Homo sapiens: one gene and its partner. The protein of the gene in region 1 purifies or fractionates together with the protein of each later gene. This does not show direct contact. Each region holds a gene or a part of one and is shown on either strand. Other genes may lie near its edges.

Region 1 (3,500 bases):
AATTCAAAATTTCCAAATTCATAAAGTTCAAATCAGACTGAAATATTTGCAAGGAGCCAGGAGTGGCCCCAGCCTCGCAGCCCCTTCTCGTGGCATGAATACCTGAGCAGAGCAGCTGGGGCCCATACATGCTGCCTCCCAAGGCAGCCACAAGGCCACAGGACCCTCAGAGGAAGCAACTGCTCTGAGTCGGGTTTCTATGGAGTAGGACTGGGCCTATCAGGCCACCCTTCCCTATCTGTTTCCTCACTGGGGCCTCCTGAGAAGGCGATGTACAAGGAGGGGTTCACAATTCTTGAGGGTCAAGAGTAGAAGACTACATGATGCCCACAGGATATAGGGAGGGGCCCATGACCCGCCTTCAGGGTCTGGACAGAGCCATCCTGCGCTGGCACTGAGGACCAGCTCCATCAGTGGAGGAGCGGGAGGTGTCAACCTGGGGACCTTGGAGGAGACAGGGAAGGCAACTCTTTGAATAAAGGGCAAACGTCACCACAGGCAGGATGCCTCTCATAAAGAGACACAAAAGTGCCGACTCCAAGGCTCAGAGGCAGGAGTCTACTACCTTTTACCCTTGGTTTGGGCCTGCCCTGCTCACCCCAAATCCCCAGCCCCAGGAGGACACGCTGCCCCTCAGCAGCCTCCCCTCTCCTTTGCAGAGGAAGGCAGCACTCACCCTAAGCAGGAGGGACTGCAGGTCTTCAGAGTGAGCCCACTGCTCAAAGATGTCGTCCAGGGTCTCAACGTACCAGGAGCCACTCTTGGGGTCCCTCCAGGAAACAAAACCTTTGGAGGGAGGAGGGCTGAACACTGCTGGAGAGCCACCCCTCCGCCGGCTCCCCACCACCCCTCTGGCCATGCACGCTGGCTCGGGCGCCCTCCAGACCTTGACTCATACATACATCCAACAGGAGCAGCCTGGCCCCTGAGGCTCTGCCCTAATCATGATCTTATTTCACCCTCATGACCATCCCCTGATTCCGGCTATAATTCCTGTTTTCCCAGCAAGGAAACCAAGGCTTGGAAAAGTCAAGTGACTCATCCAAGACATAAGAAAGGAAGGAAACTGCCAGGCACAGTGGCTCACACCTGTAATCCCAGCATTTTGGAAGGCCGAGGTGGGCAAATCACTTGAGGTCAGGAATTCTTGACCAGCCTGGCCAACATGGTGAAACCCTGTGTCTACTAAAAATACAAAAATTAGCTGGGTGTGGTGATGCATGCCTGTAATCCCAGCTACTTAGGAGGCTAAGGCAGGAGAATTACTTCAACCCGGGAGGTGGAGGTTGCAGTGAGCTGAGATCATGCTACTGAACTCCAGCCTGGGCGACAAAGCAAGACTCCGTCTCAAAAAAAAAAAAAAAAAGGCTGGGCGCGGTGGCTCACGCCTGTAATCCCAGCACTTTGGGAAGCCGAGGCAGGTGGATCACGAGGTCAGGAGATCGAGACCATCGTGGCTAACACGGTGAAACCCCATCTCTACTAAAAATACAAAAAATTAGCCAGGCGTGGTGGCAGGTGCTTGTAGTCCCAGCTACTTGGGAGGCTGAGGCAGGAGAATGGTGTGAACCCGGGATGCAGAGCTTGCAGTGACCCAAGATCGCGCCACTGCACTCCAGCCTGGGCAACAGAGCGAGATTCCATCTCAAAAAAAAAAAAAAAAAAAAAAAAGAAGGAAGGAAACTACCGCTTGCTGCAACTACTACGTGCCCCGCACTGTGCTCAGTGACGTGCCAGCCACCTTGTTTAATTCCCATGGAAACCCCTGAGGCACGATTCCTATTCCCCTGCTAAAGATGCGAAGGCAGAGGCAGGGTCAGGCAGAGGAGAGGCAAGTGAGGCATAGGAACCCAAGGGCGCAGGCCTCCTTGCAGCGCGCATCCTTGCCCGCTCAGCCTGAGCCGAGGCTCAGAGAGAAGTAACTTGCTCAGGGTCACAGAGGGGCAAAAGACAGAACCAGGACTCATACCCTGGTCTTTTCTCTCACCACACAGCTGCCTCTAGGGCAGACGGGAAGACCCACTGGCTGCGAGGACGAGCCCTTCTGATGTGCTCACCTGGGAAAGTAGAGTAGGACACAAAGATGTCACTGGGTGTGGGCAAACTAGATATGGCGTCCAGCTGGTCGAAGGTCCTCAAACCTTCCTGGAACGGGGTGGCATCTGGCTCGGGGTTACTGCCAGGGGACTCGTCTTCAGGGGAAGTGGAGGCCACCTCAAACCCATGGTCTTTCTGCTCTGCAGGAAGCAGAAACAAACACCTCTTGTCATTGAAATACACAGACAAGGATGGTTCAACATATGAAAGTCGGTGCAATATACTACATTAACAGTGTGAAAGGAAAATAAATCTTGGGACCCCAAACTCATTAAGCCAAACGGAAAAGTCAAGCTGGGAACTGGGTCACGCAAACCTGCCTCCCCGTTTTGGTTCCTAAATAAGATGGCTACAAGATGAAAAGCTACACACCTCTCCCATATTTTGCCCACAAGGAAATTCCTGGTGAGCTCCAAGATAGTTGTCTGATAAAATTCACCACGGCAATGTAAATGGATAGCTTATCTTTACAGAGGCATCACCCCTCTGCCCACCTGGCACAAATGCATATCTGATTATTCCCCTGCCCCATTTGTCTTTGTTATCTTACGTAAAAATGCAGGTTCCCTGCATTTTCCCCTGCCCTATGTTACCTTACGTAAAAATGCAAATTCACTGAGCCAGACAAATGCTTGAATGACTATTTCCCCCTACCCTGCTCTTACCTGAAAACTGTGTACTTCTCAATATCCTGCCCTTTCCCCTTTAAATTTGGAACCCTAAAATTCATGTTCAGAGAAAGGCATAGACCTGTCTCCTGGGCGTGCATCCTTAACTTTGGCAAAAGAAACTTCTTAAATTGACTGAGACCTGTCTCAGATTTTTGGGGTTCATAAGAGAATGAAAAAAACCCTACATCATCATCTCAATTGATGCAGAAAAAAGCACATGACAAAATTCAACAAGCTTTCATGATAAAAACAGTCAACAAACTCAGAATAGAAGGAAACTACCTCAACATAGTAAAAGCCATATATGAAAAACCCACAGCAAACATTATACTCAATGGTGAAAGACTGAAACCTTTTTCTATAAGATCAGGAAGAAGGCAAGAATTTCTGCTTTTGCCACTTCTATTCAACACATTACTAGAAGTTAATAGAGCAAGGAGGCAAGAAAAAGAAATAAAAGACATTCAAATTGGAAAGAAGGAGTAAAATTATCTCTACTCACAAATGGTATGATTTTATATGCAGAAAACCCTAAAGATGAAACACTATTAGAACAAATAAAATTAGCATATTAGCAGGATACGAAGCCAACCACAAAAAATACTTCCATTTCTATACACTAACAATGAACAATCAGAAAAAGAAATTACAAAAATGGTTCCATTGACAATAGCATCAAAAATAATAAAATAGTTAGAAATTAACTTAACCAAGATGAAAGACTTGTAAAAT
Region 2 (3,500 bases), on another chromosome or scaffold:
AAAAATGAGAATTTCCCTTTTTACCTTTTCTCTCCCTCAACACAAAATACCTATCCTTTCCCACTCCTCGCATTGTAGTTACATCACAATTTTTGGTTAAATCAATATTCTGTGTCTTTCGGTGATTGTGATGGACTATAAAGTTGAAAGAACCATACTATGGACACTCATACACCCACAATCTAGATTCGATGATTAACCTTAACATTTGGCTATAATTGCTTCATGACGTCTATCCATCTTTCACTTCATTTTAGTTTTTAAATCACTTCAAAGTGAGTTGCAAATGGGAGTCATTTGACCCCTAAATACTTTAGCACGTATTTCATCAACTAGAGCTATCATTTGTGTATGGTTATTCTTTTCATATAAAATTTACATATCATAAAATCACCGGTCTGCACCATTCAGTGGATTTTGACCAGGGTTTGGCAAACTTTCTAAGGGAGCAGATAGCAAATATTTTTGGCTTTGCAGGGGTTATAGTCCCTGAGGAAACTTAATGAGAACTTTTTATACAATGGTCCCTGTCACAGCTACTCAGCTGTGCTGTTGTAGCATGTTAGCAGCCATAGACAATACTTAAATTCATAGGTATGTCTGTGTTCCAATAAATTTTTTTTTTTTACCAAAACAGGTGGTGGGCTGTATTTGACCTGCAGGATGCATGATGTGATTTGTCCAATCTTTGTCAGTTACATACATCTGTGTAACCTAAACTCTTACCAAGATATAGAGAAATTACTATCAGCGTGGAAAGTTTTCTCATGCCCTTTTGTAATTAATCTCTGCCCCCGTGCCCTAGTGACAACCACTGTTTCTTTTTCATCTGAGATTAGCTTTGCCCATGTTTGAGTGTCAAATAATGGAATCATGCAATATGTGCATTTTGGTGAAACACTTTTACTTAGCATAATCTGGAGATTGAATTATGTTGCATATACTGGTGATTTGTTGCTTTTTGTTGCTGGGTAGTATTCCATTGTATAAATTTGCCTCACTTTATCCATTTTCCTGTTGATGAATACCTGGGCTATTTTTGTTTTTTTTTTGTTTTTGTTTTTGTTTTTTTAAGACAGGGTTTTGCTCTGTTGCTCAGGCTGGAATGCAGTGGATCAATCATGGCTCATTGCAGTGTTGACCTCCCAGCTCAAACAGTTCTCCCAGCTCAGATTCCTGAGTAGCTAGGACACACAGGCCCGGGCCACCACACCTGGGTAATGTGTTCTGGTTTAGAGATGGAGTCTCACTTTGTCACCCAGGCTGGTCTTGAACTCCTGGGCTCCAAGTGATCCTCCCGCCATGGCCTCTCAAAGTGCTGCCACCATGCCTGGCTTAGTTCTAGTTTTTGGTTATAATAAAATAATTTGACCATTGTGAACCTTCTTCTACAAGACTTTTTGTGGACATATGTTTTCATTTCTCTTGTCTAAATACGTAAGTATGGAATTGCAGCGTCATAGGGTAGGTACCTGATTGGTTTTTTAGGGAAACTCATGGGAACTTTTCCCAAGATGGTGAACCTTTTTGCACACCCCCCAGTGATGCATTAGTAATCTGCTTGCTCTATTCAAGATTTGGCTTATCAATCTTTTATACTTTTTTTTTGAGACAGTCTTGCTCTGTCACCCAGGCTGGAGTGCAGTGGTGTGATCTTGGCTCACTGAAACCTCCCCGCCTCCCAGGTTTAAGGGATTCTTGTGCCTCAGCCTCCTGAGTAGCTGGGATTACAGGCATGCACCACCACACCTGGCTAACTTTTGTAATTTTAGTAGAGACAGGATTTTGCCATGTTGGCCAGGCTGGTCTTGAACTTCTAGTCTCAAGTAATCTGCCCACCTCGGCCTCCCAAAGTGCTGGGATTATAGATGTGAGCCACTGCGCTGCTAGCTTGTCAGTCTTTAAAATTTTAGCCGTTCTGGTGGGTGTGTACGATTTTTCATTTGCTTTTAATTTTAATTTTCATTTTCTGATAATTATGTTGAGCAGTCTTTCATGTACGATTGTTATTATTAGCTATTTGTATATTTTCCTTTGTGGGGTCCTCTGATTATCTTTTATGTAGATTTTTTTTCTTGGAGTTTATAATTTCACTGCCTTGGTTTTTAGTTTACTTAATTTTGTATGTATTCATCAGTAAATTATCTCCAGACTTTTAAACATAGCTCCAGAACTCTTCTAAAGAAGTTTAAACACCACAGGGAGTTTAGCTTATAAAGGTTTTATGTAAGGTAACAGTATACTTAGTTGTTTTGCTTTATATTTCTTTTGAAATAATAATTTTAAAAATATTTAATTTTTAATGGATTCAAGTTTTATCACTTTTTCCCTTTGTGATTTGTACTTCAGAAATTTAAGGAGTTATTCCTACCTTAAGGTCAAAAAGAGAATTCTGTGTCTTTTTTAAATTTAAAAATTTTTCTTTTACATTTAAGTATTTGAGATACCTATTAGATTGCCAGTCAGACTCACAAGAATCAGAGGTCTTACCCAGTGTTAATCTTTAAAAATTGAAACAGTTTAAGTGATCATGAGGCATAGGTGAAATATGAAGTCCAAGACTGCCAGATCTCTGAGTCCTTCCTTGCCTCTTTAGAGTGTGTTCTGTCCCAGACTTAACCTGTGAGGTTTCTAAGTGATGTATACAGTCACATAAACAGAAGAGTGCTCTGCAAACATCTTGATTCTATGCTCTTAACAGGTAAATTAATATAACATTTTTCAGAAAGCTGTACCATTAGATCTGTAGAATCTCGGCTTGTTTACTGTAATCCTATATACTTCGGGGACATTCATCTAAAAGCATTACTTAGATGAGGGCTCTCCCACTGGCAAATACCATTGATGTTTTTTCTGGAGGTTTGTCATTACCATATTTAAAGGATGATTTGACTGGACCACCTTTTCCCTACCTCCAACCCTCTCTCTCCCTGCTTCATTTCTTTTTAATGTTTAATCTGTATAAGTGGTATGATATAGGCATTCAGGGTATTTTTTTTTTAAAATGTGAATTACCATACTGTTTTCATATATGTATGGATGTTTGAATTCTCTATAGTTTTCCTTTGATCTCTGTGTCTGTCTTTCTACTTGTAAATTTAATGCATTTTAAATAAAATGTTTGAAATAAATTACTTCTCATTTAAAAATTGTCAAGAAAGTTATCAAAATAATCTGATATTATCTATTTAAAATGTTATTTATTTCAATAGACTGAACCTCCATTGAATACTCCAGAAAACAGGGAATATACTGCTGAAATAATGTTTGAGTCCTTCAATGTTCCAGGCTTGTACATTGCTGTGCAGGTAAGCAAGTTCATACTTTCTAAGTTTGATTCTTACATTTTAACCTAGTTTAATTTGCTGCCTAAAATACGTACTTTTTTTTTTTTTCTGCAAAGGTTTAAACATAATGTCAAAGCATGTTATACTTCTCTCCTGAATTGTTAATTTAGAAGTAATATTATGGGAAGTGGAGATATTTAGTCAGGAAAAGAG

The links. Proteins that work in one complex are often made in the same cells at the same time.
Region 2: the proteins of CASP9 (region 1) and ACTR3 purify together in Homo sapiens (affinity purification with mass spectrometry; one large-scale study listed by BioGRID and IntAct). This does not show direct contact.

Annotation. Positions count from the first base shown.
Region 1 is NC_000001.11:15,493,216-15,496,715, forward strand, and holds part of CASP9 (caspase-9 isoform alpha precursor), read right to left. Parts: intron 2,238-3,500; coding exon 2,058-2,237; intron 787-2,057; coding exon 677-786; coding exon of another isoform or gene 569-676; exon of another isoform or gene 1-568. UniProt on the Homo sapiens protein: Involved in the activation cascade of caspases responsible for apoptosis execution. Binding of caspase-9 to Apaf-1 leads to activation of the protease which then cleaves and activates effector caspases caspase-3 (CASP3) or caspase-7 (CASP7).
Region 2 is NC_000002.12:113,928,089-113,931,588, forward strand, and holds part of ACTR3 (actin-related protein 3), read left to right. Parts: intron 1-3,212; coding exon 3,213-3,308; intron 3,309-3,500. UniProt on the Homo sapiens protein: ATP-binding component of the Arp2/3 complex, a multiprotein complex that mediates actin polymerization upon stimulation by nucleation-promoting factor (NPF).